Homo sapiens: one gene and its partners. The protein of the gene in region 7 purifies or fractionates together with the protein of the main gene of each other region. This does not show direct contact. Each region holds a gene or a part of one and is shown on either strand. Other genes may lie near its edges. The genes, in order: CEBPZ, ISG20L2, SPTY2D1, RPF2, BMS1, NOC3L and PDCD11.

Region 1 (4,817 bases), on a different chromosome or scaffold from region 7:
GGTAAAGGGGTGGGAAAAGATATTCCATGCAAATGGAAACCAAAAGCAAGCAGGACTAGCTATTCTTATATCAGACAAAACAGACTTTAAAGCAACAACAGTTAAAAAAGACAAAGAGGGACATTACATACTAGTAAAATGATTAGTCCAACAAGAAATGTCATAATCCAAAATATATATGCACCTACCACCAGAGCTTCCAAATTTATAAAACCATTACTACTAGACCTAAGAAATTAGACAGATGGCAACACAATAATAGTGGGTGACTTCAATACTCCACTGACAGCCCTAGACGGGTCATCAAGACAGAAAGTCAACAAAGAAACAATGGACTTAAACTATACCTTAGAACAAATGGACTTAACAGATACCTACGGAACATTCTACCCAAAAACTGCAGAATATACATTATTTTCACCAGCACACGGAGCATTCTCAAGGATAGACCATATGGTAGGCCACAAAACAAGTCTCAATAAACTTAAGAAAACTGAAATTGTATCAAGTACCCTCTCACACCACAGTGGAATACAATTGGAAATTAACTCCAAAAGGAACCCTCAAAACTATATACAAATACATGGAAATTTAATAATCTGCTCTTGAATGATCTTTGTGTCAACAATGAAATCAAGATGGAAATTAAAATTTTTTGAACTGAACAATAGTGACACAACCCATCAAAACCTCTGGGATACAGCAAAAGCGGCACTACATTTAGTAAGTTCACAGCATTAAATGTCTACATCAAAAAGTCTGAAAGAGCATAAACAGACAATCTAAGCTCACACCTCAAGGAACTAGAGAAACAAGAACAAATCAAACTCAAACCCAGCAGAAGAAAAGAAATAACAAATATCAGAGCAGAACTAAATAAAACTGAAGCAAACACTACAAAAGATAAATGAAACAAAAAGCTGGTTCTGTGGAAAAATAAAGAAAATCGGTAGACCATTAGCAAGATTAACCAAAAAAAGAAGAGAGAAGATCTGAATAAGCTCAATTAGAGACGAAATGGGAGATACTACAACCGATACCACAGAAATACAAAAGATCATTCAAGGCTACTATGAACACCTTTATGCACAAAAACTAGAAAACCTAGAGAAAAATGGATAAATTCCTGGAAATATACAACCCTTCTAGATTAAACCAGAAAGAAATGGAAACTCTGAACAGACCAATAACAAGTAGCACGACTGAAACAGTAATAAAAAAACTGCCAACAAAACAAAGTCCAGGACCAGATGGATTCACAGCTGAATTCTATCAGACATTCAAAGAACTGGTACCAATCCTACTGAAACTATTCCAAAAGATAGGGAAAGAGGGAATCCTCCCTAAATCATTCAATGAAGCCAATATCGCCCTAATTCCAAAATCAGGAAATGACATAACAAAAGAAAACTAGAGACCAATATTCCTCATGCACACAGATGCAAAAACCCTCAACAAAATACTAGCTAACCAACTCCAACAGCATATCAAAAAGATAATACACCATGATCAAGTGGGTTTCTTGCCAGGGATATAGGGCTGGTTTAACATACGCAAGTCAATAAATATGATATACCACATAAACAATTAAAAACAAAAATCATATGATCATCTCAATAGACGCAGAAAAAGCATTTGACAAAATCAAGCATCCTTTATGATTTAAACCCTCAGCAAAACTGGCATACAAGGGACGTACCTTAAAAGTAATGAAAGCCATCTATGATAAACCCATAGCCAACATTATACTGAACAGGGAAAAGTTGAAAGCATTCCCCCTGAGAACTGGAACAAGACAAGGATGCCCACTTTCACCACTTCTATTCAACATAGTACTGGAAATCCTAGCCAGTGCAACTGGACAAGAGAAAGAAAGGGCATTCAAATCAGTAAAGAGGAAGTCAAACTGTCACTATTCACCGATGATATGATAGCATACCTAGAAAACCCTAAAGACTCATCCAAAAAGATCCTAGATCTGATAAATAAATCCAGCAAAGTTTCAGGATACAAAATCAATGTGCGCAAACCAGTAGCATTGCTATACACCAACAGCAACCAAGCTGAGAATCAAATCAATTACTCTACCCCCCTTACAACACCTGCCAAAAAAAAAAAAAATAATAATACTTAGGAATACACCTAATCAAGGAGGTGAAAGATCTCTAAAAGGAAAACTACAAAACACTGCTGAAAGAAACCACAGACACACACAAATGGAAACGCATCCCATGTTCATGGATGGGTAGAATCGATATTGTGAAAATGACCATACTGCCAAAAGCAATCTATAAATTTAATGTAATTCCCATCAAAATGCCATCATCATTCTTCACAGAACTAGGAAAAAAAATCCTGAAATTCATATGGAACAAAATAAGAGCCTGCATAGCCAAGCAAGACTAAACAAAAAGAACAAATCTAGAGGCATCTCATTACCTGACTTCAAACTATACTACTAGGCTATTGTTACCAAAATAGCATGGTACTTGTACAAAAACAGGCACGTAGACCAATGGAACAGAATAGAGAACCCAGAAATAAAGCCAAATACTTACAACCATCTGATCTTTGACAAAGTAAACAAAAACAAAGTGGGGAAAGGACACCCTATTGAACCATTGGTGCTGGGATAACTGGCAAGCCACATGTAGGAGAATTAAACTGGATCCTCATTTCTCACCTTATGCAGAAAACTCAAGATGGATCGAAGACTTAAAGATAAGACCTGAAACTGTAAAAATTCTAGAATATAACATTGGAAAAACTCTTCTAGACATTGGCTTAAGTAGAGTTCATGACCAAGAACCTAAATGCAAATGCAACAAAAACAAATAGATGGGACTTAATTAAGCTAAAAAGCGTCTGCATAGCAAAATAAATAATCAGCAGAGTAAATAGACAACCCATAGAGTGGGAGAAAATCTTCGTAAACTATGCATCTGAGAAAGGACTAATGTCCAGAATCTATAAGGAACTCAAAAAAGTCAGCAAGAAAAAAACAATCCCATCAAAAAGTGTGTTAAGGATATGAACAGACAATTCTCAAAAGATATACAAATGGTCAAGAAACATATGAAGAAATGCTCAACATCCCTGATTATCAGGGAAATGCAAATCAAAGCCACAGTGCAATACCACCTTACTCCTGCAAGAATGGCCGTAATTTAAAAATAAAAAAAATTTCAGATGTTGGCATGGATGTGGTAATAAGGGAACACTTCTACATTGCTGGTGGGAATGTAAACTAGTACAACCACTATGGTAAACAGTATGGAGAGTCCTTAAAGAACTGAAAGTAGAACTATCATTTGATCTAGCAATCCCACCACTGGGTACTACCCAGAGGAAAATAAGTCATTATATAAAAAAGACAAACACACAGATTTATAGTAGCACAATCTGCAATTGCAAAAATATGGAACCAACCTAAATGCCCATCAACTAATGAGTGGATAAAGAAAATGTGGTATACATATACCATGGAATGCTACTCATCCATAAAAAGGAGAGAAATAATGGCATTCGCAGCAACCTGAATACAGCTGGAGACCATTATTCTAAGCGAAGTAATTCAGGAATGGAAAACCAAACATTCTATGTTCTCAGTTATAAATGGGAGCTAAGCAATGAGGATGCAAAGGCTTAAGAATGATATAATGGACTCTGGGGACTTGGGGGGAAGAGTGGGAGGCAGTGGGGGATAAGAGTACACATTGGGTGCAGTGTACTGCTTGAGTGATGGGTGCACCAAAATCTCAGAAATCACTACTAAAGAACTTACCTATGTAACCAAACACCCTACCTGTTCCCCAAAAACAACTGAAATAATGATAACAAATTTTTAAAAAGTGAATGAAAAGATGATCCAGAGATATCTGAATGCGAGAAACAATTCAAAATGTGGAAAATAATTTCCACTTAACATCTTTCTTAAAAAGAACCCCCCCCACCCCTGAATTTTATTAATCAAATTTAGGAGAGTTCATTTCCCAAAATGATAATGACACCTTTCACATGGACACTGCTTTTAAAAGATATTAAATGTATTTTCTTACCTTGAAATGAGCCAGCAAAGTCAAAATCATCTGTACCTTTTCTCTTGCTTTTCTTAGTACTGACTTTGGAGTGGACTTCAAGTTCTGTTACACGAAAAAATTTGCTAATAAGCAATTTAAAAACAATAAGACTGGAAAATATTACTCCAAGATATGCTAAAATCTTTATTCTGATGGTAAGGCACTATACTGCTATTCCATGTGGGTTTTGTAATTCCACTAGCATAGGCTTGAGGACAGACTGAGAAAAAGACTCTAAGAATTGGCACAGTTCTAATATTTTGTGCAAGTACAAAATTTTCTAAATAGCTTCATTAATAAGACCAAATAATATAAAACCCCTTAAAACAAGAAACTTCTGCTGTGGTTCAGAATAAGTAAGAAGAATGTTGGGCAGGCATGTGCATGCTGGAGGTATGTGAAAGGACAGAAAGGTCAGACAACAGTCTAGAGACAATTCTGGGTGTTCCTTGCTAATTTACAAGATAAAATATTCACCTTCATCTATGCTGGGCTATGATGAATACTGATTAACTTTTATAAACTGCTAATTACTATCAAAAAATGGCAGCATTTCAGCTCAACATGTATTGTACAGAGAAGCTAGCTGCTGGTTAAAGTAAAAGTCCAAAGCTCAAAAAGCTGCTTAAAAGAAAACACACATAACACACAATAAAAACCCTTCAGCTCCAAACGAGAAGGGAAAAGGTCCTTTTAAGTTTCTGGCTGACATGAGTATTAATTTGAATACAGGGCTAT
Region 2 (2,186 bases), on a different chromosome or scaffold from region 7:
GAAGATGGGACGGGTCTGAGACAGCAAATCTGCCCAGCTTTGATGAGGGCTATATGTCGAGGTTAATAAGAAGTGAAGGTGGTGGTGGACAGTAAGTAGGTGAAGTCAGGAGTAACGAAATATCTAGTTCACGGGACTACGTCTGGTTTTCATCATAAAGCACTTCCCCAGTGCCAAGCTGGGGTTATGAGACTAAGGTATGTCCAGATGAGCCTAGCCCCTTCAGAGGGGGTCCCTTTGGGAGGCTATGCAGGACTGTCACTTTTGTTGAAAACCTGTTTGGAACCTCATTTGGGAATGGCCTTCAGAGCCTGTGGTGTGTTCTTCGGTTGTCCTCATTGGTAGCATGTCCTCCTACTTCAAGAGCCTGAAATGGCTAGGTGTGGTGACATGTGTCTGTAATCCCAGCTACTCAGGAGTTTGAGGTGAGAGCATTGCTTGAGCCCAGGAGTTTGAGGCCAGCCAACCTGGGAAAAATAGCAAGACCTCATCTCTTTTAAAAAATAAGTTACCTGAAGGCCAGGTGTGGTGGCTCACACCTGTAATCCCAGCACTTTGGGAGCCTGAAGCGGGCAGATCACAAGATCAGGAGTTCAAGACCAGCCTGGCCCATATGGTGAAACTCCGTCTCTACTAAAAATACAAAACTTAGCCAGGCATGGTGGCAGGTGCCAGTAGTCCCAGCTACTTGGGAGGCTGAGGCAGGAGAAACGCTTGAACCCGGGAGGCGGAGGTTGTAGTGAGCCAAGATCGCGCCAGTACACTCCAGCCTGGGCAACAGAGCAAGACTCCATCTCAAAAAAAAAAAACAGTTTCCTGAAATATTGAGAAGTTATTTTTATTTTACTTGGTTCCAAAACTAGTGTGAATAAGGTTGCTTCTGCAACTTTAGTTTATATGTGATTCTTAATTTTTTACGGTTTGTAGACTCTGAGAATTTGATGAAAGCCACAGATTCTCTTCCTCTAGTACCCATACACATCTAATTGCATGTAATTTTGGGCTTTTGTTAGCCTCCCTGGAGCCCGGGTCCCAGCCATGTGTCTAAGGCCAACATAATGGTAATAGTTAAAGGACTTCATGTAGCAAGCCAGAACTGAACTAAATACATGGACATCTCAAACATGAGTGTCATTTAGGACTGAAGGCAAATTAATGTCATGGGGTGGAGATCAATAAGAAGGTAAGGAGCCACTGGCAGTATGAGTCCAAACAGGGTATACCATGGAAATCACCTGTGGAAGAGGAAGGTGGATTCCAGAAGAAAGAAAACTTGTGGGAGTGAGCATTTCAAGGATGGAGAGGTAGGCAGTTGGTGAAAGAATCCAGAAGGGATTGATGGTCATGTTGGGCTTTCAGAATGCAGGGGTTCCACTTCAGTCTTCCTTCTCACCACTCTCTTCCCACACTTCTTCCAGATCTTGAAGATACTCACAGGGAAGATAGTGGTGGGGCATGCCATCCACAACGACTTCAAAGCCCTTCAGTACTTTCACCCCAAGTCCCTCACCCGTGACACCTCCCATATCCCCCCCCTCAACCGGAAGGCTGACTGCCCGGAGAATGCCACCATGTCTCTGAAGCATCTCACCAAGAAGCTGCTAAACCGGGATATCCAGGTAGCATCTCCCCACATCCCCCGCCCCCATCTTGGACATGGCTCTCGTTGATGCCCCTAGCCAGACTCTGATCTCAGAAGTCCTGTGGTTGTAGAGATCCAGGTGGGCTGCTGTGATGGGAAGAGCTCCATCTGTACACAGGATAATAATTCCTGTTGTCTACCTCATAGAATGTTTCAAAGTGTGCTTTGGAAAAGGGAAAAAGTCCTAAGTAGATATAAAACCCTAACTAAGGAAGAAAGCAGGTAGCAGTGGTGGTCCAAGAGACCGTGTAGTGGATGCAAGGACCGCTCGTATTTTACACGCTATATTTCAGCAAAGGGTGGCCCATCTGGCAGGAAGATGGGGACATATGTCACATATAGAGCAGTTAAGGAACTAGGGAAAGTGGAAGACTCAGAAGACCTGTCTTTGACCTGGTATGTTCTATCTCTACAGAACCTAATATGGCTTATACATACTGCCACAGAAAGGACTGAGGTAGACAGTGGCAAAGACTTCCTAGGAGTTGAACCCCTGAAATTACATAAGGAGTAGGACCCCACCAGAATTCTGTCTTTGTAGGCT
Region 3 (3,537 bases), on a different chromosome or scaffold from region 7:
TATCCAGGCTGGTCCCAAAGTCCTGGGCTCAAGCAATCCTCCTGCCTTAGCCTCACAAAGTGTTGGGATTATAGGTGTGAGCCACCATGCCCAGCCTATTTTCTTTTGTAAAATGAGAATATACTGTTTTACTCATTTAAGTATAATGAGGATTAAGACGTGTACAAGATGCCTAGTGCAGTGCCTCACATGTGTGGATACACAGTAAATGTTAGATGCTTTCCCTAATCCTGTTGTAGCAAATTCTTGCTTTTCTTTCTGCATCAGACACATCTCAATCTTGGTAACCTGTAACATTGCTGGCCTCAGGGATGTAGGTATATTACATTTCCTCTGATTTCTGTTTGGCTATCTGATAGTAAGCTAATGATACTTTCTCTATTGGGGTAAAAAGTAATTACTTTGTTTATAGTATTGTTGTTTTTTTTTTTTTTTTTTTTTAAGAGACAGGGTCTTGCTCTGTCGCCAAGGCTGGAGTGCGGTGGCATGGTCACGGCTCACTGCAACCCCCACCTCCCCGGGTTCAAGCGATTCTTCTGCCTCAGCTTCCCAAGTAGCTGGGACTACAGGTGTGCGCTACCACGCCCAGCTAATTTTTGTAATTTTTAGTAGAGATGGGGTTTCACCATATGTTGGCCAGGCTGGTCTCAAACTCCTGACCTCAGGTGATCCGCCTGGCTCGGCTTCCTAAAGTGCTGGGATTACAGGTGTGAGCCACTGTGCCCGGCCATAATGTTATTATAGGTAAATAATTCACTTCAGTCTCAAGCCAGAATACTATATCTTTTTCTCCCTCTTGCCCATAAAATTTCAAACTAAAGTGTTGGAAGAGAACAAGAATAGAATGTTAGTTAATGAATAAATGCTTCTTGCTGTTTATTTTTAAAAGCTATTGAGATAAACCTATATTTTATTATTTTAATGGAAATAGTAAGGTTTTTGTGGTGTGTGAGTTCTTTTTCCCACGACAATTTGAGTCTGTGGCCCCTGGTAAAAAAATATCCCTGCTAGTTTGTTTTCAGTGGTAAAGCCTTGAGGCATTTTGAGAGCATCAGCACAATCCATGTGAGCTCCCAGTTGGAATTTTCATTCTTTTTAAGGAAAGTGGTCATCTCATGTATATTGACAAATACCCTTTAAAAATTCTTTGGCAGCTTAAGACTGGGTATGCAAGAGGACTTAGAGGAAATGAGACGTGAAGAAGAAGAAATGCAACGTCGAAGGGCCAAGAAGCTGAAGAGGCGTTAGCTGCTGCTTTTATTTTTGTGAAATTCTAGAGCTGCTCTGCTGCAAGGATTTCCTGCCTTCAGACTGAAGAAGCCCCCTTATCATTTTAGATTTATACTTGGGTACTCAAGGAGAAGGAATGCATACTGTCATTTGCAGGCTGTCATTTGAGCATAAAATATTTTCAGATATTTTCCAGGGTGAAATCTGTAATGCAGATGATATAATGCCCACTTGTGCTCTTATGAAGTTAACTGTTCACAGATGCCAGCCTTGATCCTGATGAGCTATGCACTCTAATGTGGGGCCACTCACCAGTCAGCCAATCTTTTATTGTTCCTTTGCTACTTTGAAAGGAAAAAAAAGGTTGTCTCTTGATTTCTGTAATTCTTCTGCTGATCTGTGAGTAGGGCACTGCCCTGCTCCCAATCAAACTTAGTCTTTTTATGAGAAACCTGGACCTTCCATGAATGTTGCCAGCAATAAAGTGACTTGTCCTAATCTATGGATTGAGAACTTGAAAATGTAGAGTAGAATTTATAACTATCATATGGATGTCATCCTGTGACTTTGAAGTACAAAGTAGAATAAATTCTGTATTCATGGATTGGATGCTGAGCATTCTTACTCATTAATTTAGGTGGCTAGGAATTAATGAAAAAATTTTCAAGTTAAAATACAGGTTATAACAGTATAATATTCTTTTCTAAGTTTTCCTTTCAGATTTACTGTTATGTTGGCTTTAGTGTAAGACAAGGTCACTGTGCTGATTGATTTTTATCTAAAAAAATTCATTTTTATATCGAAGAAAAAATATTTTATTCAAACATTAGATTTGAAAGAGTAATAGTTTATAAAATAAGGAAGTAACATGTGAGGCTCTCCCCTCCTCCCCTCCCCCATCATAAAGATATTTTGAAATCCCAAGGTGCCCTCATACCTCTTGACATTAATGACTTCATTTTTTAGCTTGAATTTGTTAGCAAATATTAATGGCAGAAAACCAAAAACTAAATTTATGGTATCGAGAGCACCACCTTCTCTTTTTGCCCATATTGCACTTTGATTTCAAACTATGCACTGTGAAGAGATTTTTTTCCCCAGGTAGGAAGGGATGTTCCCTGTTATCGTTATTTTACTGAGCTGTGGAAACTCATTTTTACCCTTTTTAAAGTCATAAATATGGACTTAATAGCCCTTAACCTTCAAGTCCAAGCAGTTCCAATCAGGCTGACTTAGGATCATGCTGGAAGGAAGCCAAGTCTCAAGAACTGTCAGCAACAGAAAATGAGATATGATGCTAGAGAGCATTTGTCCTTGACTGTAAGTACAGAGGCTTAGGGGAAGTGAGACATAAGCTTGTAGGAATAATAAACGTTCTACAATAAACGTTTTGGCTATCTTAAGCCATTGTATGGGGGGGATTAGGAAGTAGGAGGGATTGTCCTACAACAGGCCCTTATACTTCAACAGCCCAAATATTTTGGTTTATTCCTTTTTATCCATAAAGTCTTTATTCTTCAAGTTTGGGTATTATAGATTACCATTGTTAGCCTCCCTTAATGGGACCATATGAGCCAGGCTTTTAAGACGGACTCATTTTGAATTGAGTTTCAAACTTTGAAAGTGCAAGGATTTAATTTTTAAGTTGAATCCCATGAAAGGTGTCATCATCACTAGGAATAACACCCTTTGTAACTACATATAGAACTGTTACAATGGTAGCAGAAAATCCTATTGATTTCATCTCACCCATTTCAGATACCTTCAGTGAAATTAAGGGTAGTGTGATGTCCCATGTAATAAAACAGGCTTAGAACATCAATTCCTCTGCTGCCATTTATGTGCTTTTATTCCCCCTTCAAAAATTTTTTATTGGATATATATATTTTTCAGTATTCAGACTCTGAAATCTGTCATTACAATCAAGTGCTTGTCACAGCTGAAAGATTTCTGGTGGCTTAAAGTTTACTAGCAGTAAATTTATGATATGGTACAGTTCTTTGTACAGAAAGGCACCATTATGTTAGAATAAATTTCCAGAACTTAGTGGGAAGAATCAGGTTTTAACCTTGTGTGTCTGTTACTTCTGAGTGCATTTCTATAATATAAATGTTGATTTGCGTCAACATTATAAAAGAGCACTTCTGTGGCTCATTTAAAAGAAAAAAAAGGTTAAGTCTTTTAAATTTTGGCCTTGTTTCCAAATCCTGTCTTCCATGTTGTTTTTCTGCACTTCCTGACCACTCTTATAAAAAGCTCACAAACCTTTGAAGAAACTGGAGTAGGCTGTTATTTCATTAAGGTTTA
Region 4 (4,817 bases), on a different chromosome or scaffold from region 7:
CTTGAGCTCAGGAGTTTGAGACCAGCCTGGGCAATACAGGGAGACCCATATCTCTACAAAAAATTAAAATAAAAATTAGCTGGGCATGGTGGTGTGAACCTGTAGTCCCAGCTGCTCAGGAGGTAGAGGACTGCTTGAGCCCAAGAGGTCAAGGCTGCAGTAAGACGTGATCACACCAGTACACTCCAGCCTGGGTGACAGAGCAAGATGCTGTCTAAAAAGAAAAAAAAAAAAGAAAAAAAAAAAAATTGAGGGACAGAGAGACAGACCCAAGACCCTTTAAATTAGTACCAATCTCTTGGAAAATTAAATTACTTTCCAGAGTTATAAAAGAGCTGGCAAATATAATTGCAGAATGCTAAGTACTAATAACCTTTTAAAAATCATGGAGGCTGGGTGTGGGGGCTCACACCTGTAATCCCAGCACTCTGAGGGCTGAAGTGGGAGGATTGCTTAAGCCCTGAAGTTCAAGACCAGCCTGGGCAACACAGTGAGACCCCATCTTACAAAAAATTTTAAAAATTAGCCAGGCATAGTGGCATGTGCCTATGGTCCCAGCTACTTAGGAGGCTGAGGTGGGAGGATCACTTGAGCCTGGGAGGTTGAGGCTGCAATGAGCCATGATTGAGCTACTGCACTCCAGCCTGGGCATCAGAACACGACTTGCCTCATAAAGGAGAAAAAAATAGAAAAGGATGTAGTCCTTATATTCATTACACAAATCATTTAGAACTAGCATAGTTTGCTAGGTGTGGGTTATCTGTAGAACAACCTCACAAGGTTCTTGTTAGAATGAAGCAGTGTATATGAAGTGCCTACTATATGCCTGGCACTTAGGATGATGATGGTAATAAAGTAAAAATGAGCCAGGGCCTGTCGCAGTGGCTCATGCCTGTAATCCCAGCATTTTGGGAGGCCAAGGAGGGTGGATCGCCTGAAGTCAGGAGTTCAAGACCAGCCTGGCCAACATAGCAAAACCCTGTCTCTACTAAAAATAAAAAAAAAATTAGGCCTGGCGCAGTGGCTCACACCTGCAATCCCAGCACTTTGGGAGGGCGAGGCGGGTGGATCACGAGGTCAGGAGATTGAGACCATCCTGGCTAACACAGTGAAACTCCATCTCTACTAAAAATACAAAAATAAGCTGGGCATGGTGGCAGGTGCCTGTAGTCCCAGCTACTCGGGAGGCTGAGGAAGGAGAACGGTGTGAACCCGGGAGGTGGAGCTTGCAGTGAGCCGAGATCGCGCCACTGCACTCTAGCTTGGGCGACAGAGCGAGACTCCGTCTCAAAAGAAATTAGTCAGCATGGTGACGGGCACCTGTAATCCCAGCTACTCGGGAGGCTTAGGCAGGAGAATCGCTTGAACCCGGGAGGTGGAGGTTGCAGTGGGCCGAGATCACACCATTGTGCTCCAGCCTGGGCAACAGAGCAAGACTCTATCTTTAAAAAAAAAAAAAAAAAAGGAGCCAGGAAGGTCACTGAGGGCTTCCCGGAAAAGAAACTTGATGATCTGACACTTAAATGAATAGTAGAAACTGGATAAATAAGAGCAATATCAGAATACACAATAGAAATGTGAATAATATATTGGCAATAAACCCTTTCTAATGGAAAAAAAGAAGGCAATAGGAGATCAAGAAGGCCAAGCTACATTGGTTATATATTGTGAAAGGCCTTGTATATTCAACTCAGAAAAACTAATTAAGGTTTTTGAGTTGGAAGTCGGTGATACAAACAATCTTGAAATTTTAATCCCTCAACTTTCTAAATTTAATTTTAAATGATGCTAGGAATGACAGGAGATGGGTGCAGGAATTTTATAAAACACTATACAAGTAATACCTAAGTTACTAACACATCCAGAAATAATCATCTACACAGTACAACAGCTGCTTTAACTCTCCCGAGATACTTAGGTGCTTTCCTGCTGCTGGTAAGGGAAAAAAAAAAGAGAAAGGTCCAAAAAAAGGAGGAAAAAGAAGTTGTGCTCGCTTCGGCAGCGCATATACTAAAACTGGAACCATACAGAGAAGATTAGCATGGTCCCTGCGCAAGGATGGCATGCAAATTTGTGAAGCACTCCATTATTTTAAGTATATAAATATTATTTTTAAAATAAGAGAAAAAAGAAGTTACAAACCTAAAGTAGCAAAGTGCCACCAGTGAGAGTCTGAGACTGTCTTCCTGAGCTACCCTGAAGATAATAAATACTAAAATACTTACCAATAAGAAGACTTTTTAGTCTTCTATAATCTTCTGTTACATCGAAATCATCGCCAGCAAATATCAGCATGGGTTTTGTTCCCTCAGGACATTTACTGTTCTAAAAAAAAAAAAAAAAAGCAATTATATAATTACCAAAGTCTAAACTGTTTATATATTGATTTTGTTTTTTATTTTTATTTATTTTTTTTGAGATGGAGTCTCACTCTGTCATCCAGGCTGGAGTGCAGTGGCACAATCTCAGCTCACTGCAACCTCCACCTCCCGGGTTCAAGCAATTCTCCTGCCTCAACCTCCTAAGTAGCTGGGACTACAGGTGCACACCACCATGCCTGGCTAGTTTTTTTGTATTTTTCTTACAGACTGGGTTTCATCATGCTGGTTAGGCTGGTCTCAAACTCCTGACCTCAAATGATCCGCCTGCCTCAGCCTCCCAAAGTGCTGGGATTACAGGTGAGAGCCACTGTGCCTGGCCTATACTGATTTTAAAGTAGTCAATACTTTACACTAATTTATTTTCACATTTTATTAACTGTTCCAAAATGATGTCTGTGAATACTGATATTAGAGGCAAAAACAGAGGTGGGTTTTTTTTTCTTTTTAAAGAGACAGGGTCTCGCTGTGTTGCCTAGGCTGGACTCAAACTCTTGGGCTCAAGGCATCCTGCAAGTAGCTGGGACTACAGGTGCAGGCCTGGCTAAGATGACATTTTTAAGCTTCTAGACTTCTATACTAAAAAAAAAATTATTTGTTCCATTCATTTACATTACCAAATAAAAGATGGCAAAAGAATGATGTAAAGGGCTTTTTTAACATTAGTCTACGCAAAGAATAAAATTAAAAGTTACTCTTGCAAAAGGAAAACAAAACAAAACAAAACATAACACAACACAACCAACCAAGCAACCAAAATAGACTTCTGATGGCCAGCAACCCTGAATCAAAATAAATTTAAGGCCAGGTGTGACGGCTCATGCCTATAATCCCAGCACTTTGGGAGGCCAAAGCAGGAAGACAGCTTGAGGCCAGGAGTGAGTTCAAGACCAGCCTGGGCAACACAGTGAGACCTCATCTCTACAAAAAACCTTTTTTTTTTGAGACGGACTTTCACTCTTGCTGCCCAGGCTGGAGTGCAATGGCGCTATCTCGGCTCACCGCAACCTCCACCTCTCAAGTAGCTGGGACTACAGGCATGTGCCACCACGCCTGGCTAATTTTGTATTTTTAGTAGAGATGGGGTTTCTCCATGTTGGTCAGGCCGGTCTCGAACTCCCGACCTCAGGTGATCTGCCCGCCTTGGCCTCCCAAAGTGGTGGGATTACAGGCATGAGCCACTGCAACTGGCCAAAAAAAACTTTTAAAAATTAGCTGGGCATGCTGGTGAGTGCCTATGGTCCCAGCCACTCGGAACGTGAGGTAGGAGGATCGCTTGAGCCTAGAAGGTGGAGGCTGCAGTGAGCCATGATCGTGCCACTGTACTCCAGCCTGGGTGACAGAGTAAGACCTTGTCTCATGAATAAATAAGTTTAATTATAATTTATTTGTACCACTGTGCCTTTCCCACTATACCCTATAAAAAGTATTTTAAAATGAAGGCTATGGGCTGGGCACAGTGGTTCACGCCTATAATCCCACCACTTTCAGAGGCAGAGACGGGGCTGATCACTTGAGGTCAGGAGTTCAAGACCAGCCTGGCCAACATGGTGAAACCCTGTTTCTACTAAAAATAGAAAAAATTAGCTGGGCGTGGTGGTACACGCCTGTAGTCCCAGCTACTCCAGAGGCTAAGGTAGGATAATCGTTTGAACCCAAGAGACAGAGGTTGTAGTGAGCCGAGATTGCACCACTGCACTCTAGCTTGGGTGAGAGCGAGATGCCATCTCAATAAAAAAAAAATGAAGGCTATAGGCTAGGTGTGGTGGCTTACACTTGTAATCCCAGCACTTTAGGAGGCCAAGAAGGGCAGATCGCTTGAGCCCAGGAGTTTGAGACCAGCCTGGGAGACACGGTCTCTACAAAAAAATACAAAACAGGCTGGGCACGGTGACTCACCCTTATAATCCCAGCACTTTCGGAGGCTGAGGCAGGCGCATCACTTGAGGTCAGGAGTTTGAGACCAGCCTGGACAACATGGTAAAACCCTGTCTCTACTAAAAAACACAAAAATTAGCCAGGTGCAGTGTGCCTGTAGTCCCAGCTAGTCGGGGCTGAGACAGGAAAATTGCTTGAACCCAGGAGGTGGAGGTTGCAGTGAGCTGAGATAGCGCCACAGCACTCCAGCCTGGGCGACAGAGACTCCGTCTCAAGAAAACAATAACAAACAAACCAAATACAAAACAATTAGCCAGGTGTGGTGGTGCACATCTATGGTCCCAGCTACTTGGGAGGCTGGGGTGGAAGGATCACTTGAGCCCAGGGAAGTCCAGGCTGCCATGAGCCGTGCTCTTGCCACTACACTCCAGCCTGGGATACAGAGTAAGACCCTCAAAACAATAAATAAATAAAAATAAAATGAAGGCTAAATTAAACTACCAGCTGGACATTCACATGAGAAGTAATATAATTTTACATAAGCTATAGAAAGTATAGACC
Region 5 (4,817 bases), about 61 Mb from region 7:
CTTTGAAAGCTTTTTTCTAATAGCCTCTTCATTTTCTGAGTCTTCTTCCTCTGCACTGAGTGAGGAGCTTTCTTCAGATTCATCTTCAGATGCAAACACCTCTTCAGCTGTGCAATGCCCAGAATCGAAAGTGGGGAGAGCTGCTTTCTTCATCAGCAAAGACTTCTCCAGATTCACACGGTCACTCTGGCAATTAGCTGGTGACAGCCCTGCTTTACTACCTTCTCCAGCAGCCTTTGATCCTGAAATGCCCTTCTCTCCTGCAGTGCAGTCCTCTTCTTCACTGCTTTCATCAGCTTCCTCCGCTTCCCCTTCTTCCGCTGAGCTCCTCTCAAGGTCATCGTCACTGTCAGCAAATGCTGGCAAATCCATTTCACTGTCTTCTTCCAACTCAAGTTTCCGTCGTTTGATGCCCTTAACAGCCATATACTGATCAGTCATCTCAGCATTTTCCTCCTCTTCTGCTTCCTCATCACTAGAGCCGTTTTCCAACCCGTCATCTTCAGACATTTCATCATCTTCTTCATCATCACTATCTCCAGATTCATCTTCATCTCCGAAAATGGCTTTCCGACGCATTCGACCAGTGTTCAAGTCCATTTGTTTTTCCTCCTTTGGCATCATTAGCCTGTATTACCAAGGAAATACAAAATAATTCAATTTGTACATTAATCAGCTAATCTAGAAATGGCAATATAGTCAATGAAAATACAAAGAAATAGAAAATGTCAAGGAATTGTTTAAGATGACATAGCATAGGGAAAATATGATTTGATAAACATTGGAAGAGTTAAGAAGCAAACTCGGGCATGGTTCCCTAACACCACACTTCAAAAGAACTTATAGAGAGAATAAAGGAATAACCCTTAAAAAACAAAAATCTAATTTTAGAAAAAAATTGCTCAAAAGAGAAGTTACTGTTTTGTAGATCTTTTGGAAAGCTGATTAATTTCTAAGCTAAAAACACATGATCCTTAAGAGAAATGGGTAAGTCCAGGCCCAAAGCAGAAAGAAGGCAAAATGAGCCTGGATCCTCTTGTTCTGTCAGAAAGTGAGAAATGCTCAAAGACTAACAGAGACAGTTGAAAGGACACAGGAGACAGGCTGAAGGCTCCTGCAGCCAAATCTGGGCCAGCATAGGCATCAGGAAGAATAATGATAGTGATGGAAAATAACCCATGGAACAAAACACAAGTGCATTAGTCAGCAGTGATACCGAAATAAAGGGGAGAAGAGAAAGCTCTTTGTTAAAAATGCCAGCTAACAAACGTAGGAGGAATGACAGAGGAAGAACATCCATTTTAAGTCACCAGTGCTATAACTGATACAGAAGAATCATCAGGAAGCTAAAATCACAGGATAAAAGAAAACTGTATGAAGCTATTTAATGTAGCAAGATATATAAAATTAAGAAAACATAAATTTGAAAAAACTGAAAATCATACCATAAGAGACGGGTAAGTTAGAATACAGCAATAATAGGCCAGGGGTAGTGGCTCACATCTGTAATCCCAGAACTTTGGGAGGCCAAGGCAGGAGGATTGCTTGAGCCCAGGAGTTTGAGACCAGCCTGGGCAACATGGTGAGACCTAATCTCTAGAAAAAAAAAAAAAAATTAGCTAGGAGTGGTGGCGCACTCCTGTAGTCCCAGCTACTTGGGGGGCTGAAGCAGGAGGACCACTTGAGCCTGGGAGTTCAAGGCTGAAGTGAGCCAAGATCATACCACTGCACTCCAGCCTGGGAGACAAAGCAAGATCTTGTCACAAAAAAAAAAGAATACACCAATAATAACAAAATGATGACTACATAAAGACTGTATAGAAGAAGGAAATGACAAAGGACTATAAATCATGCTGCTATAAAGACACATGCAAACGTATGTTTATTGCCGCACTATTCACAATAGCAAAGACTTGGAACCAACCCAAATGTCCAACAATGATAGACTGGATTAAGAAAATGTGGCACATATACACCATGGAATACTATGCAGCCATAAAAAAGGATGAGTTCATGTCCTTTGTAGGGACATGGATGAAATTGGAAATCATCATTCTCAGTAAACTATCACAAGAACAAAAAACCAAACACCGCATATTCTCACTCATAGGTGGGAATTGAACAATGAGAACACATGGACACAGGAAGGGGAACATCACACTCTGGGGACTGTTGTGGGGTGGGCAGAGCGGGGAGGGATAGCATTGGGAGATATACCTAATGCTAGATGACAAGTTAGTGGGTGCAGCGCACCAGCATGGCACATGTATACATATGTAACTAACCTGCACATTGTGCACATGTACCCTAAAACTTAAAGTATAATAAAAAAAAAAAGAAGGAAATGATAATATAGAAATAAAATTATGTATTTTAACTGTAACTATATTAGAGGAGAGTATTCTTGTAGACAAAGATGACTAGAAGGATATGCAAAAGTGAAAATAGCTAGTAATCCCATTATAAAGGAGTGATCTTTCGGCGAACACTTCGTACCTGTCAGGCATTCTGCTAGGTAGTTTATGCACATTGTACCAAATTACATACTAGATAATCTCAAAATTTTCAGATAAATTTTACTGGGAGTCATAAATCAATACAACAAAACCAATGTTTTGCAAACATCCACTGCATATAAAGGTATACAAATCCCCAACCCAGACTGGAAAATAATTCACATGAGCCATACATCCACGGAAACCTACCCAGAGGAGATAATACAACACAATCTAAATAAAACTTTCAGAGACAAGGCATGTGGCTTCTGGACAGCCACAAACTCCCTGACTTTGCTCTAGTGTTTTGGCCACCAAAAGAAAGCCAAGTGGCTTCAGGTCTCTTAAAAAACAAAAGGCAACCTATGGAAGATGGCATGGTATTTGAGGAATATTTGGGGTCTGTTGAAAAATGCATCCTGCAATTTATTTCAAGAAAAGACTCCCTTGTAATGTCAGGTAAGTGAAGAGCCCTCAGAGACACATGCACACACAAAGAAAAACAAAACAACATAGAATGAATCCCACCGAAATGTGTTATGATGGCTGAATTATGGGTGATATGATCTTTTGTAATACATCTTTTTATTAAAAATAGAAAAAAAGCAGACTTACCCTTGATTATCTATATCCTCTGACCCAAGTGGCTTGGAATCAGAAAACAGCGTCACTCGACTTGAAGCCATCTTGGCATCAATGGTGGAGTGGGTAGAGATGAGACTCTGGACCAGCTCATGGGTGGGCCCCACTTCATCCTGTCAAGACCACCAAGAAAGGGCACGTGAGGAAAGCACAAAGATCCTGGAGAGACACGAGCTTCACTCAGTTTCTCAAAATTATCTTAGACACATTTCCTAAGAACCTTTCTTAATGCCTCAAAAAGCAGAGAAGAAAATCCTTACAACAAAGCTTGAAATGGATCCCCATCTCCATTAAACTTTTCCAAAGTTCAGGGAGTATATAACCTGATAACCTAAACAACCTAGCTAGAAAAACCTCAGCTCCAAAGCTACAACAATGCTAGCTTTTCTAATATTTTAAAATAAGCCGATTTTAACCCAATAAAATTCCACTTCAGAACAAAGAAATAAATATTTGAAATCCACTTTAAAATACAGCATGAGGAGACCATTGTGAATGAGAAAAAGACCAATGAAAGCTGGAAAGCACACTGATTTTGTAGAAACGGGGATGGGCCGTGCAGGCGCCACACAGCAGCAATGCCTGTGCTGGGGCCATGGATCAAGGAGGAATGAAGGAGAGGACTCTTCTGCTTGGTACAATGAAAAAAAAAGTATTATTTTTATCCTATATATTTACAATATGCATTTGGGCCTTTATTATAAGTACAAGAGAAAAATCTTCAATAAATAAAAGCTGAGTACATTACTTTTTGTGATTAAAAAATAGATTCAGAAAGAATACTGAAAGTTCAGAGAAATGACTCCCGTCTCACCGATACCTGAAAAACGTGGCTGCCACCAAGGTCAACATAGACAGCGTCTTTGTCATACAGCACACCCCCAACTCCAGAAAGAGGCGCATAAACCAGCTTCTCCTTCTCATTTAAACAGCGCTTCTTTTGTTGTTCAGGAAGAGCGCAAGGGTCTGGGAGGAAACTGATGTCACTCACGGCAAAATCTCCTACCCCTGGAAGACAGAACCCAAAAGCCAGCTTCAGCTGACAAGAAGTCAGAAGCATCTACCATTGACTAGGGGGTTAAATATGATCCACAGTCCAAGGGCTTAACCCATAACACTAAAGAAGGGCATTGTGCCACACTGGAACAGTGGCCCCCTAGCTACAAGACAAGAGGTCAGAGAAGAGGGGATTCAGTAACACCTTTGCAGGCCTACACATAGGTGGCTTACTTTTAAAACCTCCAGCAAGGCCATCTTCCCTTGTTTGGTCATTTTTCAGTTTTCCTGAGAAATGAAGCCATCCCAAGAATCCTATGTGTAATTCTAGTATGTTCTACAACAAGAGAATACCTGGCATGTGAATTTGGCTTTTATTTTTCAAGTGTGCTCCTCTTAAATAACCATAAAGTGACACCTTCCGGTCACATTTGATGTTTGTTCGGATATCCTCTGGGTTTGTCAAATCTTCCATCCTAGAAAAATAAATTCAATCACAGCAGAAATGAATGCCAAAAGTTCCTATACCTCCTTTCATGTGTCAATGATTCATCACACTCTTGTCCATTAAGCACGTCATTTAGAAAACTAGAAAATGCAGAAATAAGGAGGCACCATTCACCATCCACCAGAGGAAAAGGGGCAGACACACAACTGTGTCTCTAGGCTGAAAGTGATATTCAT
Region 6 (4,817 bases), 9.1 Mb from region 7:
CCAAATAAAACTTGTATTGGCTAACCAGGCCTTCTTCAAATTCTCTTAACTTCTGGGTTTCTTTTCGGGTCTGAAAAGACCAAAAAGGTCAATCATTTTTTAAAATCAGAACATTAAAAGCCCAAAATTAGTATAAAATATGTGTGTCTAGTATACACCCAGTACTATTTAAAAAAACAAAAAACAAAAAACGCGGCAGTCGTTTAGGCCAGGCGTGGTGGCTCATGCCTGTAATCTCAGCACTTTGTGAGGCAGAGGCGGGTAGATCACCTGAGGTCAGGTGTTTGAGACCAGCCTGGCCAACGTGGGGAAACCCCGTCTCTACTAAAAGCACAAAAATTAGCTGGGCCTGGTGGCGCATGCCTGTGATCCCAGCTACTGAGGGGGCTGAGGCAGGAGAATCACTTGAACCCGGAAGGCAGAGGTTGCAGTGAGCCAAGATCACGCCACTGCACTCTAGTCTGGGCGACAGAGTAAAACTCTGCCTCAAAAAAAAAAAGTCTATCTCTCCAAAATGTTTAGTTATTTTAGATAGTAATTATATCTAGCAATCTAGCATTACCTTAGTAGATTTTTCTGCTTCTGTGAGGGGCCGGATTTTATATGAAGGAGTAATATCTTTAAATAACTCCATCAGAGAAACAATTACCAGCTTTCGAACAGTAACAGCCACATCAGGATCTTGTTCCATCAACATAGAACGTAATTCTTTCAATTTTTTAATCTGTTAAAGAAATAGCTTATAAAGCTGGAGAAATCATGACGAAACAATTATGAACAAAAGACAACAGCCCCACATCCGGCAAAACAAGCGGAATTCACACAATGACTCCAAGTCTAGTCATGCCACACCAAACTCCAGACCCTGCTCACTTTACCAAGAGATAAGTCACTAAAGTCATAAAGTAATTGTATTAGTCCGTTCTTGTATTGCTAGAAAGAAATGCCTGAGGCTGGATAATTTATAAAGAAAAGAGGTTTATTTTGGCTTATAGTTCTGCAGGCTGTAGAGGAAGCTCGGTGCCTGCGTCTACTCCTGGTGAGGCCTCAGGAAACTTACGATCAAGGCAGAAGGCAAAGGGGGAGCCAGGGTGTCACAGGAAAGATAGGGGAGGTTCTAAGCTCTTTTAAACAACCAGCTCTCACATGAACTACCAGAGTGAGAAGTCACTTGTTACCACAAGGATGGCACCAAGCCATTCATGAGGGATCCACCCCTATAATCTAAACACCTCCCACCAGGCCCACTTCCAACATCAGAGGTCACATTTCAACATAAGATTTGGAGGGGACACACCTCCAAACTATATCAGTAATCATATTTTTGTCATATAGTTAGAAACATACAGACCTTAAAAAATTAGTTTACATTTATTATTTAGCTATTTTGGGAAATTCTTTTTTGCTGGATTTTCCTAAAGTACGTGTGTCCTATTCTTCTAAAAACGCTTTTCAAAATATACTAAAATGTTATATACATTAACCAAATATATCAGTCATACACATGAATTAATCAGGAATTACATGTAATATAGCCACATTAACTTGAGCTTCAAAGATAATTTCTATGATGGTTTCGACTGCTTTGATGAACTACTATTGTCTGTGAGCACAGGTTCCTGAGTAGAAGATCTGGGTTCCAATCCAGTGGCTGTTAAAATCTGGAACAAATCACTTGGGTTTTTTAAGGCTCAATTTTCCAGCTGTAAAATTAGATCAATCTCTTATGCCTATGGTTTTGTAATGATTGAGAGAATACACATAAGAAATATTCCAAATCTCTCTTCCCTAATTCTGCTCTAGATCTTCCCCTCACTTCATTAGAAAAGGACAAGTACTACTCCAAAGCATTCCCACATGAAATTTGCTTCTATAAATGTAAATAAGCTATTCTATCATTTCATAAACAAATACTTGTTATAATAGTATGCTGGGGACACCAGCATAACAATAATAATAGTATCATTTTATATGACTTCACGTATATTTCATCATATAATCCTCACCACAAAGTTTTGAAAAAGACACTGTCCTTTTTTAGAGATGAAAGAGTCTTGGATAAATAACTTACCCAAAGTCTCACAGATAGTACTTATCAGGGCCAAGATTAAACCTCAGATTTCTCTAGTTCATGTGTTATAACCATCACTAACTCAACGACTATACACATGGCACAATAACACTTTACTTTAACTTTGGCTCTAGTTCACTTAAAATATTTTCAACTTACAAATATTCCTGAACTAATTCCATACACTTCCCCTGTAGCGCGCTTTTTAAAAACTCCACGGGTATGTCAAGCAAATTTGCAAACAGGTTCCTCCTCCCTAATACAATTTTATAAATTTAAACATTTTTAGAGTTATAAGATGTCCAGTATTTTCATATATGAAGATGAGGAGAATAAGATTCAGAGAGTTTAAGTAACTTTTCTAGGATTACAAAAGAAATTAAGTTCAGACATAGCATTAAGCTAAGATTCTGTCTACTCTCTTACTCTAACCCAGCTACTATGTTTAGTTAATGCTTTTCCTTTTAGTGTATGCTTATAGGTAACAAGGGAATCTTAACAATTAGGCATTTACACCATACCTAATACAAAGAGCCTAAAGAAATTAATACTACCTACATTATTTTCTGGATCTGATAATATGGCAGATGCCAAGGCTGCAATATGCATCTTCTTCTCCTGTAATTTCTTCTTTCTCTCAATCAAATGTTCTTCTATGGTCAGCTCTTGAATAGGATCTTCAATGATCTCTAAAACAGATTAGATGTTCCCTTACATATTCCTCTGCTTACAAGTATCCAAGAATCTTAATAAAATATTTTTACAGTAATAATAATAATGACAACAGCTAAGAATTTTGTATTTACTACTACACATCATCTCCTCAACAATACAGGTACTATCATTGGACCCATTTTATAGATAAGAAAACTGAAGCAAAGGAAGAGAAAATAACTTGGCTAAGCTCATAAACCAAAGGAAAATAGGATTCAAGCTCATAAACCAAAGGAAAATAGGATTCAAACTCAGGCAGTCTGATTCTAGAACTTTTTTTTTTTTTTTTTGAGACAGGGTCTCACTTGGTCACCTAGGCTGGAGTACAGTGGCACTATCACAGCTTACTACAGCCTCCACCTCCCAGGTTCAATTGATCCTCCCACCTCAGCCTCCCCAGTAGCTGAGACCATAGGTGAGCCACAATACCCAGCTAATTTTTGTGTTTTTTGTAGAGACGGGGTTTCACCATGTGGCCCAGACTGGTCTCAAACTCCTGGGCTCAAGTGATCCTCCCACCTCAGCATCCCAAAGTGCTGGGATTACAGGCATGAGCCAGTGCAACCAGCCTAGAGCTCATATTCTTAGCTTCTATGATAATAAGCCCAAAATAATTCATATTAATTAACAAATAGGATAATCCTATTTAGTTTTTTTTTAAGTACAGAATATTCTCCTTTGTTTTTAACACTATATATTACTTTATACAAACTAATACTTCATAGTTTTGGGCTACAGAAAAACATGTCCACCTTAGGAAATTCATAGGGAACTAGATTTAATCAACACTAGCATAATCTGTAATGGTTTTATGATGGGTGACTGAAAACAGTTAAACAGTTGACCTGTAATTCATTTTTGCTATTAATGAGGTCTGCTAAGCGAAAGTAAAATTTAACTAGATTGTTCTGTCACAAATTCCAAACTAATATAATTTCAAACAATAAAATGCATTATTTCAGTTCAACTTTGATTAAATGGTCCTAGGTAATAGAAACTGACATTCAATTATATGAAACATATGCAAGTATAATTGTGCTAGAAACAAACCAAAATGACTTCATACTACAGAATCGCTTTTGTAATTTAAAGCTAAAAAGTTAACAGTTATTTGTAAGTAGTCTTTCTCTTACAATTAAAAGGAATTCAGAACAGTAATAATTAACAAGACACACTTCTTGTATGCCTAGATATTACAAATATGATTGTGTAAATTTTTCCATAATCAAAAAAATAAAGAATCTATTAATAATTCCACAAGATGAAGCTTTCAAATGTGGAAAAATGTTCAAAGTGACCTTGAAATGAGCAGTACTCCAAAATGTACCTTCCAGATTTCATCTAAAATTAACTCACATTTACTATTATGCAAAAAAATTCTCAATTAACAATTTAGTAACTGTAAAGACATATTACCTTCCTCAAGTTCCCTCTCTTCTTCTTGATCCTCTTCATCTTTGTTACTATCAGTAACTATATGGAAAACATATGTATTAAAACTGTGATATATACTTAAGTGGTAAAAACTGTAAAGAAATGCTAGGAGGTGATTACGATAAAACTCAGGATAGCAGTTACTTTTATGGGAAGAGCACAATTAGTGATTGAGGTGAGCACAAGGGAGGATTCTGGAAGCTAGCAGTAGTTTTTTTTCCTTGTCTGAATAGTAGTTTTATAGGTATGCGCTTTGTTATAAACCATGTAACTTCACATCTTTGATATCTGAACTTTTCTGTTTTATTTCACATACAAAAGAAGATACATTAAAAAAGAAAGCTAATCAAGAACAGTTAATATGCTCTAATTTTAGAAACAACAAAATTTAGTGAAAAGAAAATCACCTGAACCTTGTAGCTTCAGTTGTCCTCACAGTACAAATTGGTACCTGAGATAATCTATAATTCTGGCCCAAATCATCAAGCTTGCTATAAGACTAATTGAATATTTTCTAGATATGGGTAAAATCAAAGTAAAATTAAATTTTGAGTGAAAAAAAAACATGATATCAGTAAGGGGGTAAAAGTTCAACTAA
Region 7 (4,817 bases):
GGCTGGTCTTGAACTCCTGACCTTAAGTGATCCACCTGCCTCGGCCTCCCAAAGTGCTGCGATTACAGGTGTGAGCCACCGCACCTGGCCAAGGATACTTTACTCTTTTGAAAGATTTTCAGGGGTACCTCTTAAGGTGTGTGTGACATAAAGGCACCTGGGAGGGGTGAGTGCAGCTGAGCTTTTGGCCCATGTTCCTCTCGCCCAGCTGTGTGACCATCTGGAGGAAGGGACACCTTTCCCACTCCACACTACACATTGAAGGCCTTAGTCTCCAGTGTGAAGATGACTGCACTTGTTTTTATTCTCTCAGCACACTTAGACAGGGAAATTGATCATCCTGAGCTACTGAGTACAGGTTTTGCAGACTTCTGAGGTTTTTGAGGTGTTAAGGGACCAGAATGTCTTTGAAATTATTACCTCCCCCACCCCCATGTCATTGAGTCCTGCACTTTCAGATGGGAACAATCCCAGCAGTCCCCTAGCAGAGCCTCCTGGTGTGCCTGGCACGTCAGCCGAGGCCTATTGAGGGGATGGGACTCACCAAAGTCATGGAAGACAGCGAGCAAATGGCGTGCAGCTGATTGCTGCTGCAGATCATTCATCAGTATTTCTTCCCCTCTGTAGGCCTGTCTCCCTGGTGTTTTGCCTGGGAAAATCTCATTTGCATCCCCTGCCAGAAACATTTTAAAAATGGGAGCAGAGGGGAGGGCCCCAGAAACAAGCCCAGTGAGGGGCAGAGGGTTCCCGTGGGTTGTTAGGGGTGAGGACAGCCCTGGTGTCTGCCTGGCTTGCTGTGAATGTGCCTTCTTGACTGGGTGCCCTCTCCTGGAGGCTCTGTTTTTTTTGTTGTTGTTGTTTGTTTTTGTTTTTGTTTTTTTTTTTTGAGATGGAGTCTCACTCTGTCGCCCAGGCTGGAGTGCAGTGGCGCAATCTCGGCTTACAGCAACCTCTGCCTCCCGGATTCAAGTGATTCTCCTGCCCCAGCCTCCCGAGTAGCTGGAATTGCAGGTGCATGCCACCACTCCTGGCTAATTTTTGTATTTTTAGTAGAGTCAGGGTTTCACCATGTTGGTCAGGCTGGTCTGGAACTCCTGACCCCATGATCTGCCCGCCTCGGCCTCCCGAAGTGCTGGGATTACAGGCGTGAGCCACTGCTCCCAGCCAATCCGGAGGCTCTGTTTTTATGGAAGGGAAGTAGAGCTGTGTTCAGAGAGGGCTTGGGGGAGCTTCCTAGGCCCCATTTCCCCCTACTCACGTACCCCTTTCCAGGAACATCAAGTGGGTTGTCTTAATGAAGACCTTTCCTCTTCTCATCTCCTGCCTGTTCTTCTGTTCAGATCATGAGTGACAAATTTGTGACCTCCACAAGTGACCACTTTGTTGAGGGCCAGACAGTAGCGGCAAAGGTGACCAATGTGGATGAGGAGAAGCAGCGGATGCTGCTGTCACTGCGGCTGTCGGACTGTGGTCTGGGGGACTTGGCTATCACCAGCCTCCTCCTCCTGAATCAGTGCCTGGAGGAGCTGCAGGGCGTGCGCAGCCTTATGAGCAACCGAGGTGGGGCACCTGTGGGGCAGGGGAGGTGGGCCAGGGGTGGGAGTATGTGTTGTAAATTACACCTGTTGTTAGGTGAGTTGTTGGGCTTCCCAGAACATAAGAAAAAAAAATTTGGGGCCGGGCGCGGTGGCTCACGCCTGTAATCCCAGCACTTTGGGAGGCCGAGGCGGGTGGATCATGAGGTCAGGAGATCGAGACCATCCTGGCTAACAAGGTGAAACCCCGTCTCTACTAAAAATACAAAAAAAAATTAGCCGGGCGCGGTGGCGGGCGCCTGTAGTCCCAGCTACTCGGGAGGCTGAGGCAGGAGAATGGCGTGAACCCGGGAAGCGGAGCTTGCAGTGAGCCGAGATTGCGTCACTGCAGCCCGCAGTCCGGCCTGGGTGACAGAGTGAGACTCCGTCTCAAAAAAAAAAAAAAAAAAAGAAAAAAAAAATTGGGTTAACTTTTTTTTTAATGGAAGTATGACCTGCATAAAGTGCACAATTTTATTATTATTATTATTATTATTATTATTATTATTATTATTATTGAGACCAAGTTGCACTCTGTCGCCTGGGATGGAGTGTGGTGGTGCGATCTTGGCCACTGCAACTTCCACCCCCCAGGTTCAAGCGATTCTCCTTCCTCAGCCTCCGGAGTAGCTAGGATTACAGGCATCTGCCACCATGTCTGGCTAATTTTTGTATTTTTAGAGAAGACAGGGTTTCGCCATGTTGGCCAGGCTGGTCTCGAACTCCTGACCTCAAGTGATCCACCCGCCCTGGCCTCCCAAAGTGCTGGGATTACAGGCGTGAGCCACTGCGCCCGGCCAAAGTGCACAGTTATTATGTGTGCAGCTCAATAAATGTTTATATTACACCCCTTTAAGATAAAGGTCATTACGAGCATCCTAGATGTCCTCTTCTCCCCACTGCCAGTCCAGAGTCAAAATTTCCCTTAGTTCTGTGGCTTTATATTTGCATTTGCTGTGAATTCACTCGCCTTTTCACCTTTCATTCCTTTATTCAGCAGATGAAATGGAACTGGGACCTGCCAGGCTTTGTGAGGGGTTATTATTCTGACCCTCTTAGACTTTGAACCATTGTGTGGGGTTGTTGTAACTTTAATGGAATTTCATAGCAGGAGGCTTGAGAGGGGACAGTGAAAATTCAGAAACCAAAGGAAAGCCTGTCTTCCTGGTATTTGTTGGCTACTCCCATGAATTATGGTCAGGTAGGATTATTAGCAAGGGGCTTAGGTCTGTCTGCTTGTGACAAGAGTTTTCATGGATACTGAACATTTTTGCAAAAAGTGATTTTACCTTGTCAGTGGTTCCAGTGCTCCACTGTCCTCCGTGGTGATAGCACACTGCCAGAGGAAAAGAACAGTGAGAGTTCTTTCATGGTACTAATCCGTGTTTCCTTTGGATCTCTGGCAGACTCTGTGTTGATCCAGACGCTGGCCGAGATGACCCCAGGAATGTTCCTTGACCTAGTGGTGCAGGAGGTGTTGGAAGATGGCTCTGTGGTATTCAGTGGGGGTCCAGTGCCCGACCTGGTCCTGAAAGCCAGCAGATACCATCGCGCAGGTGAGTGCTTCTGTCTTACCCATTGTGGTTGGTGGGAGGACCCTTTGTCCATTGCTCCCTCTCCTGGATATAGAATTTCTAAATACTTACGGTAGGTGAGTTGATTCGGTAGAGATTTTTGGCATGCCTATCTTGTGTGAATGCAAAGGCTTAGGTATGAATCCTTTAATTGTTACAATTGGGTAAATCTAGATTTTTATATATTAGGTTACATAAATTAAGGCCTACCTGAACTTGAACTATGGGAGGTAGACCCTTGATTTCCCTAATTATGGCCCGTATGGACCCAGGACATGTGTCCTCTTTGCTTTTTTGGATCTAAGGGGTAGCAGCTACATGTGAGAGGTGCTGCTCTCCCTTCACTCTGTTCCAGAAGGATAATCACACTGTGGTTCTGCACTGCAGGGCAGGAGGTGGAATCTGGGCAGAAAAAGAAGGTTGTTATCTTAAATGTTGATCTTTTGAAGTTGGAAGTGCACGTTTCCCTTCACCAGGACTTGGTGAATAGAAAAGCTAGAAAGGTAAGCTTGCTCCTGACTTCCATTTCCATGGTTTCACATGATGTACCCTTCAACCCCACTCCAGTTCAGGGATTCCAACTCAGATGCCTGTAGCAAGGGTAGCCCTATGTCTGGATGGATCCAGGACACCCCCGGTTTAGACCTCTTGTCCTGGTGTGGTTCATAGTGCTGACTTCTGTTCTGGTTCCGGTGATAAGTTACATGGGCACTCCATCTTTAGGGCCAGACAGATAAATAGTGTGCAGGAGTGGAGCTGGCTGTGTGGGTAGGGAGTGGCTGGCCTGGGACTCTGACGAGCTGGAGAGTGCATGCCCAGCCCCTGTGGGGCTGAGACTGTTCAGTCCCGCCCAATTGTTGCCGGGTGGGAATCTGGGGCTACTGCTGCTAAATCTTTGATTTTTAAGAGAAGGCAGAATTTGGATTTTTATTTGAAATAAAAGCTGAAAATGTTGGAAACTTATTTTTTTAAAAACATCCCATGAGCCAAACAGCATGTCTGTGGGCAGTTCAGACCTCCAAGCTGTGCGTCCACACCCTCGCCTGCCTTGTCTTCTGGACACTTTTGTGTGACATAAGAATGGGTTTGAGGGAAAAATTATTATTTTTCTCTGGGTGATGAATATATTTGGTTATTGTCTAAAGCACTTATTAGGCACCTAGTTGCACAGAGTATGGTGCAGTGTAGATATAATCCTTAATTTCCAGTTGCTTACAGTATTAAGAGTTTAGGACAGAGAGAGAATGGAAAGCAATACTAACCTCTCATTCAGTTTTCTAGCAGGACCCTGTACCATTTTATCACCTAAGGGAAGCTTGGGCATATAAGAGCATGAGCACAATTTGGATTTTGAGGAAAGAGAGGCTAGGTGCCTTGCACACAATAAGCTCTCAGTAATGACTCTATTCATTGCTTGGGTTGAAGAGTGATTAATTGGGGGTGGGGGAGCTGCAGGACAGATTCAGGAACCACAGTGTCTCTAAGCTGAGAGAGCTGTTAGAGGTTGCAAGGCTGTGCATCAGAATTATCTCAATAACTTGTAAAATTCAGATTTACTAGATCTAGGATAGGGTCTTGCAATTTAAATTCAAAGCAAAGCAAAAACCAAGCCAAGGTAATTCAGAGGCAGCCCCATGAGTTTAGTGTACAGGAGAGGAAAGCTAGGTCC

Evidence for each region.
Region 1: the proteins of PDCD11 (region 7) and CEBPZ purify together in Homo sapiens (affinity purification with mass spectrometry; one large-scale study listed by BioGRID and IntAct). This does not show direct contact.
Region 2: the proteins of PDCD11 (region 7) and ISG20L2 purify together in Homo sapiens (affinity purification with mass spectrometry; one large-scale study listed by BioGRID and IntAct). This does not show direct contact.
Region 3: the proteins of PDCD11 (region 7) and SPTY2D1 purify together in Homo sapiens (affinity purification with mass spectrometry; one large-scale study listed by BioGRID and IntAct). This does not show direct contact.
Region 4: the proteins of PDCD11 (region 7) and RPF2 purify together in Homo sapiens (affinity purification with mass spectrometry; one large-scale study listed by BioGRID and IntAct). This does not show direct contact.
Region 5: the proteins of PDCD11 (region 7) and BMS1 purify together in Homo sapiens (affinity purification with mass spectrometry; one large-scale study listed by BioGRID and IntAct). This does not show direct contact.
Region 6: the proteins of PDCD11 (region 7) and NOC3L purify together in Homo sapiens (affinity purification with mass spectrometry; one large-scale study listed by BioGRID and IntAct). This does not show direct contact.

What each region holds. Positions count from the first base shown.
Region 1 is NC_000002.12:37,206,941-37,211,757, forward strand, and holds part of CEBPZ (CCAAT/enhancer-binding protein zeta), read right to left. Parts: intron 4,235-4,817; exon of another isoform or gene 4,143-4,234; coding exon 4,059-4,142; exon of another isoform or gene 1-4,058. UniProt on the Homo sapiens protein: Stimulates transcription from the HSP70 promoter.
Region 2 is NC_000001.11:156,723,581-156,725,766, reverse strand, and holds part of ISG20L2 (interferon-stimulated 20 kDa exonuclease-like 2), read left to right. Parts: exon of another isoform or gene 1-1,202; coding exon of another isoform or gene 1,203-1,304; intron 1,305-1,418; coding exon 1,419-1,619; intron 1,620-2,186. UniProt on the Homo sapiens protein: 3'-> 5'-exoribonuclease involved in ribosome biogenesis in the processing of the 12S pre-rRNA. Displays a strong specificity for a 3'-end containing a free hydroxyl group.
Region 3 is NC_000011.10:18,607,572-18,611,108, reverse strand, and holds part of SPTY2D1 (protein SPT2 homolog), read left to right. Parts: intron 1-1,154; coding exon 1,155-1,248; 3' UTR 1,249-3,537. UniProt on the Homo sapiens protein: Histone chaperone that stabilizes pre-existing histone tetramers and regulates replication-independent histone exchange on chromatin.
Region 4 is NC_000006.12:111,005,546-111,010,362, reverse strand, and holds part of RPF2 (ribosome production factor 2 homolog), read right to left. Parts: intron 2,326-4,817; coding exon 2,226-2,325; intron 143-2,225; exon of another isoform or gene 100-142; intron 1-99. UniProt on the Homo sapiens protein: Involved in ribosomal large subunit assembly. May regulate the localization of the 5S RNP/5S ribonucleoprotein particle to the nucleolus.
Region 5 is NC_000010.11:42,792,285-42,797,101, reverse strand, and holds part of BMS1 (ribosome biogenesis protein BMS1 homolog), read right to left. Parts: intron 4,610-4,817; coding exon 4,488-4,609; intron 4,146-4,487; coding exon 3,958-4,145; intron 3,251-3,957; coding exon 3,111-3,250; intron 629-3,110; coding exon 1-628. UniProt on the Homo sapiens protein: GTPase required for the synthesis of 40S ribosomal subunits and for processing of pre-ribosomal RNA (pre-rRNA) at sites A0, A1, and A2.
Region 6 is NC_000010.11:94,352,334-94,357,150, forward strand, and holds part of NOC3L (nucleolar complex protein 3 homolog), read right to left. Parts: intron 4,259-4,817; coding exon 4,202-4,258; intron 2,761-4,201; coding exon 2,630-2,760; intron 725-2,629; coding exon 563-724; intron 71-562; coding exon 1-70. UniProt on the Homo sapiens protein: May be required for adipogenesis.
Region 7 is NC_000010.11:103,420,008-103,424,824, forward strand, and holds part of PDCD11 (protein RRP5 homolog), read left to right. Parts: intron 1-1,340; coding exon 1,341-1,560; intron 1,561-2,980; coding exon 2,981-3,130; intron 3,131-3,535; coding exon 3,536-3,651; intron 3,652-4,817. UniProt on the Homo sapiens protein: Essential for the generation of mature 18S rRNA, specifically necessary for cleavages at sites A0, 1 and 2 of the 47S precursor. Directly interacts with U3 snoRNA. Involved in the biogenesis of rRNA.